2 separate regions of the Homo sapiens genome follow, and region 1 is linked to region 2. The links come from fine-mapping of genetic effects on gene expression. A gene starts in region 2. The other region holds a variant in brackets. All regions are shown on one strand. Distances are between the middles of the regions.

Region 1 (5,305 bases), 33 kb before region 2:
ACTCCTCTCAAAAAAAAAAAAATAATAAAATAAATTTAAATAAGCAAAATGTCTTTCACTTTATCCCATTGTTACCCTGGTTCTTCCGAGCGCTCAGCTTTCCTGCCGAGCTTCTTTTAGACGCCTTTGGGTGTCCTTTGACGATGTGTTCTCCGCTTTCACACGCTCTAGCGTTCCTTCACCAGGGTCTTTGTCACCCCACGTTGGGCAGCCAGGAATGTTGAGGTGATCAGACCCAACACCAGGTCATGGGGGCAACAAAGTCCGGCGGAGTCAAAGGAATTAGAAAAAGACAGTTTGAGAGAGAAAGTAGCACCAGGAAGCCATCGCCAGTGTTGAGGCTGTGAAGACCCCCAGCTCTGGGAGCCCACGGTATTTATTGGTGCTCAAAGAAACAGGTGGTGAGGATGTGGGGGTTGAAAAGAAAGTGTATCAAGTGAAGGAGAAACATACGGCTGCTTGAGAGAATGGGAGTGCTAGAAGCAAGGAGCCAGCAAGTCTAGCAGACATGCAAGCCCTGCCTCAGCTTCTCTCCCAACACTCAGCTTTTCTCCCAACGCTCAGCTTTTCTCCCAACAGCTTTCTGTTACCCACATCTCTTAAAACCTTTGCCGGGTGCAGTGGCTCACGCCTGTGATACCAGCACTTTGGGAGGCCGAAGTGGGCGGATCACCTGAGGTCAGGAGTTCAAGAGCAGCCCAGCCAACATGGTGAAACCCCATCTCTACAAAAATACAAAAATTAGCTGTGCATGGTGGCATGCACCTGTAACCCCAGCTACTGGGGAAGCTGAGGCAGGAGAATCGCTTTAACCTGGGCGAAGGAGGTTGCAGTGAGCCAAGATCACGCTATTGCACTCCAGCCTGGATGGCAGAGTGAGACTCCATCTCAAAAATAAAAGAACCTAAACTCCTTAACTTGAATTCAAGGCTCTCCACATCAAGCCGGTCTCTCTCTGGGTTCACCTCCCGCTGCAATGGTGGATCACCCTGCACGAATCCACCATTCAGTGCCTTTGCCTTCTTTGTCACCCCCTCCACCTCAGCCTCTTTTGTCTCTTGTGTTCATTGTTCCCTTCAAATGGCATGTCCGCCTCCCGTCTACTGATGAAAGTCCCATGCCTTTTCCATAGCCCGGCTCAAATGCCCACTTACCTGTCTCAGCCCTCCTACCTGGTTGTGTGTGTAGTTTCTTTTTGTTTTGTTTTTGAGACGGAGTCTGGCTCTGTTGCCCAGGCTGGAGTGCAGTGGTGTGATTTTGGCTTACTGCAACGTCACCCTCCTGGGTTCAAGCAATTCTCCTGCCTCGGCCCGAGTAGCTGGGATTACAGGTGCCCACCACCTATTTTAGTAGAGATAGGGTTTCACCACGTTGGCCAGGCTGGTCACCTCAGCCTCCCAAAGTGCTGGGATTACAGGTGTGAGCCACCACGCCCGGTGGTTTTTTTTTTTTTTTGAGACACGGTCTTGCTCTGTCACTCAGGCTGCAGTGGTGCAATTATGGTTCACTGCAACCTTGAACTCCTGGGGGGCTCAAGTGATCCTCCTGCCTCAGCCTCCCAAGTTGCTGGGACTATGGACATGTATCACCACACCTGGCTAATTTTTGTAGTTCTTGTAGAGATGAGATCTTGCTATGTTGCTCAGGCTGGTTTTGACCTCCTGACCTCGTGTGATCCTCCTGCCTTGGCTTCCAAAGTGTTTGGATTACAGGCGTGAGCCACCACGCCTGGCCTGTGTGTTCTTTCACAGCAGACACCAGAACCCTTTCCTGTTCCCCAGTGCTGTGTCGATAACTGTGCGGCTGATTTAACTGAGAGAAAAGGTAGGAATTGTTTTCTGAAGCATTCTGAATGAGAAGGGAAGCCTAATGAGTTCTGATTTTTATTGTGACTAATACATGAGGTGCATTATTAAGGTTTGACAACATGGTGACTGCCTATAAAGACGTCTGCAACCAGTGCCTGCAGCCTTCATTCCAAATGAACATTCTTGTGATGGCTCCAATGTTATAGACAAGCATTAACAGCCAAAAAGAAAAACAGAAATCTCCTTATGGTGTGAAAGTCCTCTCAGCTGCAGCTGCCCGGACGCCCAGAAGAGCCCTCCCAGCTGCAGAGGGTGATTTCAGTCCATGTCGACCCTCCTGCTTGTCTTTACAGCAGAATGAATTCTCTTTTGTCTCAGCCTTTCCCGATTCATGTTTTCTATCCTGAAAACAAAAAGACTGCAATTAGCCCCAGATGCCCAATCAGTGCTTTTCAAAGTGGTGAGAGGAGTTGGGAGCTCAACGGGAAGCCGAGCAGTTACACCAGCAGGCACTAGCCCGCAGGCCTCGGTCCCAGGTCAGCATCCTCTCCTCTTCCTAGAGTTTCTCCCAAGGCCGGCCTTGGACTCTCCCCTGCCCCTTCCTTACCTGTGTAGACTCTTGTCCACACAAATCAGTTTATAGCATCTTAGGGCATTTCCTGGTACCTGATTCTATGAAGTTTAACATCTTCTTTTGTTGGCTCCTTCGGTGTCTGGCTGGCCTCAGTGATCATGTCTCGAATTTTCTGCAGGCAATCTGCCAGATTCCGGAACTGATAGCGGCTGCTCTCAGAGGTGAGGATCAACTCTCCTAACCTGTTGATCTTGTTTTTATGCTGCAGAGAACAAATGAAAAACTGGAGTCCTACAGAGTAAAGGTTTAAAAGCCACTGAGGGATTTCTAGGGAAAGAAAGGGATGGTGGTTACC[G/A]TGATGGCTATCTTCTGCCGCACGGGCTCCGCGATCCACTCGGCAGTTGCCAAATGGAACCTGACTTCTGCCTTGGAATTCACTGTGGAGGAAAGGGAGAAGGGAGCATGGGTGCCTGAGACTTCCAGGAAGGATCAACCCCTGGGTGACCAGTGACCATTCTGAAATAAAGGGAGGCCAGACACCTAACCATGTACATTGTAGCCTATGTCCAAGTTGGCTATGAACAAGCCCGCAAAGACAGTGAGGCACTTTTGGGCAAAAATAGACTTCCAGTAACTAAGCACCCAGTCCTTCTCTTACAGTTTTACTGGGTTCAAAAAAAAAAAAAAAAAAAATGGAGGGAATGGGTTGCACCAGAATGAAAGAAACCTGTTCTTGGAGCTGGCTGCCACCTCACAACTGTGATTTCTCTTTGTTTAGACTCACAAGCCGATCCTAGTCCTAGCAACCCACAGCTGAATGTCTGAGAATCAGACCACATTCAAAAGAATAAAGAGGATTATTATAAGCTGGCAGTATTAAAGCTTCTGCTGAAAAATCCCTTTATTCCATATGAACACAAACACAGAGCTCCTCAAGCCCATCTCCCAGCTACATTTTAAAGCAAAAGAAAGCAACAAGGCACCCCGTACCTTTGTTCACATTCTGCCCCCCAGGACCACTACTCCGACAATAAGATATTGTCAAGCGATCTGTAAAACAGAAGAAAGTACACACACAAAACTGATTACCTCATGGCATGAAAAGCAGTCTTGTTGTGTCTGAGGAATGTAGGGAAGGTATTATATTGGGAAAATTTCAAAAACTGCAAGAAGTTTGGGTGGCAAGGAACTGTGGCACCACGGTGGCAGAGAGCTGGTCCCAGTGAGCAGTAGTGACTCATCTTGGGACTGCTTTTAAGAGGATTTCCTCCTTTGGAAAAATCAAATTAAATCCACTTTCTGACTAGGTAACAAGTACACGTGCCACTGCAGGGGAACAGTTCTGCCATGGTGATTGCTGGCAACCTTGCACATGGCCAAAGCTTGAGCTGCAGCTGACCAAAGTCTTCATAGGAATGGAACGCTTCGGGATCCATGAGAGTGTGGGAGGCTGGTGAGGAGCTACTACCGAGCTACTGCCCACTTGCCTGCCTGTCTCCCCCTAGGAGGCTGTCACAAGACACTTCTCTTCGCCTCCAGTTCTGATGAGATAGGAGGCTTTCTGCCTCCTCCCCTACACACATGCACCCCTTAGGGCACAGCTTCATTTTTTTTTTTTTTGAGACAGGGTCTCACTCTGGCACCCAGGCTGGAGTCCAGTGGCACAATGACGGCTCACTGCAGCCTCAACATCCCAGGCTGAAGCGAACATCCCGGGCTCAAGGGATCCTTCCACCTCAGCCTCTCAAGTAGCTGAGACTACAGGCGGGCACAGCTTCAAGCTACAAAACTGCTTCACTGCAGCATGGTATTCGCTCCTCAGCCACAGGGTGTCCTGTCCCTTGGGTTGTGGTCATCTGGCCTCTGTTTGAGTCATCTTGAGCAAGGGCCACAGGGAGCCAGCATCTTTGGCTGCTCTTCCTCGCACTGTCTATGGAAGTCATACACTCTCCGAATCTAAAAAAGGCTCATTGTTTCTTTACAGGCTGTAACTGTTAGGCCTTGCTTATGCTTGACAGGTAAAAAATTTTACAGTTATGTAAATGGTTTATTTACATGGAAATGTCTTTCACTCTTGTCTCTCAGCCACCAAGTTTGTCTTATCTCTCTATTCCTCCAGGCAGTCACTGTATCCAGGGTGTTCCTTTCAGATATAGATATCTCTCTACACAGATAGGGATATAAATATAGATACAGATATTCAGAAATAGATATTTCAGGCTGGGCACGGTGGCTCACACCTGTAATCCCAGCACTTTGGGAGGCTGAGGTGTGCAGATCATGAGGTCAGGAGATCGAGACCATCCTGGCTAACATGGTGAAACCCCGTCTCTACTAAAAAATACAAAAAATTAGCCGGGCGTGGTGGTGGGAACCTGTAGTCCCAGCTACTCGGGAGGCTGAGGCAGGAGAATGGTGTGAACCTGGGAGGCGGAACTTGCAGTGAGCCGAGATCGGGCCACTGCACTCCAGCCTGGGTGACAGAGCGAGACTCCATCTCAAAGAAAAAAAAAAAAGATATTTCAGAGATATAGATATGTAAAAAACAAATGGTAGCTTATAAACTCTCCTGTGTCTTCCTCTTTCAATTCATCTATTGTAAAGAGTGCTCCACGTCATGAGAATGTCAAGAGCTCTACACTCACGTGGCACACGGCACAGTACGATGCGACTGGCCACACCATCATTTATTTGCTATTCTAAATAATGCTGCAAAGATTCTACTTCTGCACACCCGAGATAGTCTCTTTACTTTAATTGGGCTGGAGAGATCTGGAAGGAATGTGTGAAGGATTAGAGAAATGACTGATTTTTTTTTTTTCGTCTGAGACAGAGTCTCGCTGTGTCGCCCAGGCTGGAGTGCAGTGGTGCGATCTCAACTCACCACAACCTCTGCTTCCCAGGCTCAAGTGATTCTTGTGCC
Region 2 (5,372 bases):
CCAAAGCCTTCATTAGGGGTGCAGGAATTAAGTGAGACAGCAACAATATTGGCATCGGCCTCCCTGAAAACCATCTTCTCAAGAACTCAGTTTCTGATCTTTCTTTCTAAGCCTGGCTCTTCCAGGAAGCCCTCCCCACTGCCCATAATACTGTGCCACCAGCCGGGCGTGGTGGCTCACGCCTGTAATCCCAGCACTTCGGGAGGCCAAGGCGGGTGGATCATCTGAGGTCAGGAGTTTGAGAGCAGCCTGGCCAACATGGTGAAACCCTGTCTCTACTAAAAATACAAAAATTAGCCAGGTGTGGTCCCAGCTACTCAGGAGGCTGAGGCAGGAGAATCACTTGAACCCGGGAGATGGAGGTTGCAGTGAGCTGAGATCGCACCATTACACTCCAACCTGGGTGACAGAGGGAGACTCTGTCTGAAAATAAATAAATAAATAAATAAAAAGAAAAAAGAAAAAAATACTGTGCCACCTACACTTAGTTACAAGCCTGCCTCCTTCACCTGCCAGGGTATACCTTCAGGGTCAGGGCTGTGACTATTCCTAGCTCCCAGGATGGTGTCTGGTACTTAAGGGGAGCCTAATAGGTGTTCATGGAAAAATTTACTGCCCAGGATGGGAGAGGGGGTTGTCACAATGTGTGGATGTGTGTGTGTGTGTGTGTGTGTGTGTGTGTGTGTGTTTGAGAGGAGCTGTATCTCATTTCAGCCAAGGAGGCTGAGGCCAGAGTCCAGGGCACAGACCATGGCAGGGCCTAGTCCAGCATCCCCAGTCCCACCCTGGTCCCCCTGAGGCTATGATTAACCCTTGTCCTCAGCACAAGGACAGAGCCTCATCTGCCAGCCAGTCTTGGCCATGTGGGGAAGTAGGTCAGGGGCTTCAGAATCCGGATAGCTGCTGCACATCAGGGCAAAGCCAGCCCTCTGGAGCCTTGTGGATGGAGACCAGGGTGTGGGCACACCACAGCAGGCCACAATGGCACAAACTGCAGCAGACTTATGTCCACACCCCCCAGCTTGCTGGAGGCCATGGGAAGGTCACTTCTCCCTGGACATGTTTCCTCGCCCCTTCCAGCTCTCACCATCCAAGAAGGAGGCATCTTAGGGGAGGAGAGGATAGAACTGACTCCACTCCAGCAGGCCTCCTCTTCCTTTCTGTCCCAACAGCCCCACCCCCCACTCCCAGTGATGTCATTTCGGCCACCTCATCACCAGCTTCTAACCCCCTTCCAGTCGCCCTTTCTGTCCTCAGATGGCAACTGGGGGCAGCGGAGATGTATCCCTCTTTATTCGGTCTCTCGCCTGGCACACTGGCCGGGATTCCCGAACCTGACCCCCTCCAAACCATGAGCCATTTGCAAGGGGACCGGGCAGGGGAGGGCTAAGCGACTCCTGACTCTCGAAGGCAGATGGGAGACTTGACTTTCTGCTTCTTCACCAGCAAAGACGCGGTACCACTTCTCCCTGAGTAGGAAGCGAGTTAGGGAAACTTTCTAGGAGTCTTAGAGCTCATAATTCCTGTCAGGGACGGGTGCTGCTGGATTTGGCGTGAGATAACTTCCCTCTACACACAAGCCACCCTCCCAGCAAAACATGACGAAGGAGCCGCCTCCCGGCCTCAGAAGACTCCTAGCTAGCGCTCAGGCCCCGTAACAATACCAGGGGCGGCCGAGCAGTTGCTGCCTCCAGGACGGGGTGGGCGAGCTGGATGACGGATGCCCGGTCGTCTGGGAAAATAGGAAGACCGCCCCCCGCCCCCCACTTTTGCAGGTCTCCGCCCGTCCGGTCCGCGTCTTCTCCGGCAGCGCCCCCTCTCTCCACGTCCCGGTTCTCCAGACGCGTCCCTCCTCCGAGTCGGGCGCGCCCGGTCCAGCCCAGCCCCTCCCGGGGTGATAGCGCCCAACAATGGAGAAGCGGACAGGGGTCACCGGGCGCTCCCCGCCTTCCTGTCCCGGTCGCCCCCGCGCTCACCCTGCTCCAGGTCCTGCTGGTCGTACCAGGACTCCTCTTCCTCCGCGGAGAAGTCCTCCATCCCGGCGGCTCTCCGCATGGCCCCGCGGGCGGCGGGCGGGTGCTGCGGCGGCGCAGCTCAGGGCCGGTGCGCGCGGCCCGGGACAATGCGGCTGAGGCGGGCCGGGCCTCCAGCGTCGGGAACTCGGGCTACAGAGCCCGCGCCGCGCCCCCTCGCCATCAACCGCTCGCCGGGAGCCCACGCGGGGCCTGGCGCTTTGCCAGGGTCCGGCCCGGCCGGGGTCCCGCAGAGCCGGGGGCACCGGGCTGCGGCGACACAAAGGGTGGAGTGGCAGGGACGGCGGGTGGGACAGTGGCAAGGAGGATCCGGGCCCGCAGGCGGGTCTGGGGCGCTAGGAGCGCGCGGGTGCCGTGGCGGGCGCCCCCTGCCCGGCTCGGGTCCGCGCTGCTCCTGGCCCGCCCGGCGACAACCGGAGCCGCCGCTGCATCTTGGCGGAGCCCGCCTGCAGCTTGCGGAGCTCGGCTCCGCGGGGTGGGGCCTGCCGCCGCCGACCAATCAGGAGATGTATGCAAAGCTGGAGGCGGGGCCGAGGGCGGGACCCTCCTGGTGTCTTGGTCTGGGAATTGCTTGATCAACCCTTTCGTCCTACTTCCCCCTACGACCTATTCAGTTTATGTCTCATGTCTAAAATTATGCTATTTTAGAAGTTGTCGTCTCTCCTAGATCTCCTGGAAGCAAGAATATTGTTTCTCTTTCACAGCTGGCTACTCACTTCCTAGAACAGGCTGCTCACCAGTCGGGCGCGATGCCTGACTCCTGTAATTCCAGCACCTTGGGAGGCCAAGGCGGGCAGATCGCCTGAGGTCAGGGGTTTCGAGACCAGCCTGGCCAACATGGCGAAACCCCGTCTCCATTAAAAATACAAAAATTAGCTGGGCATGGTGGCGCATGCCTACTCGGGAGGCTGAGGCAGGAGAATCGCTTGAACCCTGGAGGCAGAGGTTGCAGTGAGCCAAGATAGCGCCACTGCACTCCAGCCTGGGCGACAGAGGGAGACTCTGCCTCAAAAAACAAACAAACAAAAAACAAACAACATGCTGGTCATTGATACCTTCCATCGACATTCTTTGAATGAATGAATACTAATTTACAGTTGCCTTTGGGAACTGCGTGTTTAAGTGCTTGTGGCTAGAAACCACAGGCTGAAAGTGGCAAAGTTTGAGGGTGTGTTACCTGCATTCAAGGTTCTGTTTTCCTTTCCTTGGGACCCATATCCTATATCCAATTATACCCATTAAAACTATACACACTTGCATCTGTCCAAGCATTCTTTCCTTAGAAGAGTGTTCGGACTCAAGCATTCACGTAACTCATTTTTATTGGGACCCTAATGTGCTGGTGCCGTTGAGAATCTCTGAATAATGTTGTGATATACCCAACGAATGACTTGTATCCAGAATACAGAAAGAACATCTGCATAGTCATAAGAAAAAGGCACGCAACCCAGTAGAAAAGTGGGTAAAAGATTTGACCAGGTAATTCACAAAAAAGGATACACAAATAACTGAATAAATATGCAACAAGGTACTGAACTTCTTTAGCCATCAGAAAAATGCAAATGAAAACCACAATGAGGTATCACTACCCAATCACCAGAGTGGCTTTAGGGAAAAAAAAAAAAAAAAAAAAGGCCAGGCGTGGTGGTTCATGCCTATAATCCCAGAACTCTGGGGAGGCCGAGGTTGGGAGGATCACTTGAGCCTGGAGTTCAAGAGCAGCCTGGGCAACATAGCAAGATCCTATTTCTATAAAAAAATTTAAAAATAAAAATTAGGTGGGCATAATGACACACGGCTGTAGTCCCAGATACTTTGGGAGGCTGAGGTGGGAGAATTGCTTGAGTCTAGGAGGTTGAGGCTGTAGGGAGCTGTGGTCATGCCACTGCACTCCAGCCTGGGTGACAGAGCAAGATCCTGTCTCAAAAAAAAAAAAAAAAAAAAAAAAAAAAAGACAAAAAATACCTAGTATTGGCAAGAATGTTGAGCAACTGGAACTCTCTCACCCTGCTGGAGGGAATACATAGGACGACAACCACTTTAGAAAACTGCCCGGGCGTGGTGGCTCATGCCTGTAATTCCCAACGCTTTGGAAGGCCAAGGAGGGTGGATCGCTTGAGGTCAGGAGTTCAAGACCAGCCTGGGAAACATGGTGAAACCCTGTCTCTACTAAAAATACAAAATTAGCTGGGCATGGTGGCACATGCCTGTAGTCCTAGCTACTTGGGAGGCTGAGGCAGGAGAATTGCTTGAACCTGGGAGGCGGAAGTTGCAGTGAGCTGAGATTGCGCCACTGCACCCAGCCTGGGCGATAGAGCAAGACTGCGTCTTGGAAAAAAAAAAAAAAAAGACTGCTTGATAACCATGAAAGCTGAATAACGTAAGCTGTTGTAGGTTGTGTTCCCAGGCAGCTGATCCTGAGATGGAGATTAGCATGCAGGAAGTTGATTAGGGATATCAATCATATTGGATTAGAGGGAGAAAAAAGAAAGAAAGTTGACTAGGGAGTGCTCTCATGATCAACACCTGCAGGAAAGGGAGGGAAGCAGGGTTGGTGGGGGAGAAGCTGGGTTGGTATGTAGCCTCTGCAAAAGCCTCCTCTGATCCCTGAAGAACTTTGAATCCAGGGTGACCCTTCAAAGCTATTCCAGGTATCATTGGGGGAGGGGGCCTTTATATCCCCCACCCTTACATATCAACCAGTCATTGAATGACACAGGTCGTTCCTAGGAGGCATGTGTGACCTTGGCCAAATAAGTTCTTTTCAGCTGAGACTAGTTTGCACAGAGCCCTGGCAGCTGGGACTGCCAGCCAGGGGTCCTCCCAGCAGCTAAGGGAATAGGTCCTTTCGTTCTGAAAGAGTTGGGGATACATCACAGCAGCCACTATACATGCATACCCTATAACCCAGAAATTCTATTCCTATATATGTGCAAGAGAAATATGCACATACCTTATCCCAAAGACATGTACAAGAAAGTTCATAGCCACAGTATTCATAAGCGCCCACACTGGAAACAACACAAATGTCCATCAACAGTTGACGAAGAATATGTGGCATGTTCATGTAATGGAATGTTATATAGTACAAATACAATGATCTACTGTCATGGGCTTGGGCTAAAAAAAAAAAGTTGAGTGAAAGATGCCAGACACAAAGAGTAAATACCTGTATTTGTCTCTTATTGCTTCTGTAACAAATGACCCCAAATTTAATGGGCTTGAAACAACACAAATTTATTATTTTATAATTCTGTAGAAGTCTGACAAGGATCACTGGCTAAAGTCAAAGCATTGGTAGAAGCTGTGTTCCTTCTGGAGGTTCCAGGGGAGTATCTG

Evidence for each region.
Region 1: its variant is fine-mapped to the expression of CDR2L in aorta (GTEx, PIP 0.96). The same link has a PIP of 0.9 or more in fibroblasts.

The regions. Positions count from the first base shown.
Region 1 is chr17:75,017,827-75,023,131 of GRCh38, reverse strand. MRPL58 (mitochondrial ribosomal protein L58) reads right to left here. Exons shown (of 6, transcript NM_001545.3): 3 at 3,373-3,432; 4 at 2,737-2,819; 5 at 2,475-2,644; 6 at 1,871-2,211. The coding sequence ends at 2,127. Among named protein-coding and RNA genes, the nearest start is that of MRPL58, 7.8 kb to the right of the region's middle. RefSeq lists an enhancer at 2,105-3,304. The variant G/A (reference allele first, on the strand shown) is at 2,738.
Region 2 is chr17:74,984,727-74,990,098 of GRCh38, reverse strand. CDR2L (cerebellar degeneration related protein 2 like) reads right to left here and starts at 2,467. Exons shown (of 5, transcript NM_014603.3): 1 at 1,977-2,467. The coding sequence starts at 2,055. LOC124904058 (a long non-coding RNA gene) reads right to left here. Exons shown (of 2, transcript XR_007065906.1): 2 at 5,250-5,372. RefSeq lists silencers at 2,372-2,461, 2,482-2,561 and an enhancer at 2,128-2,629.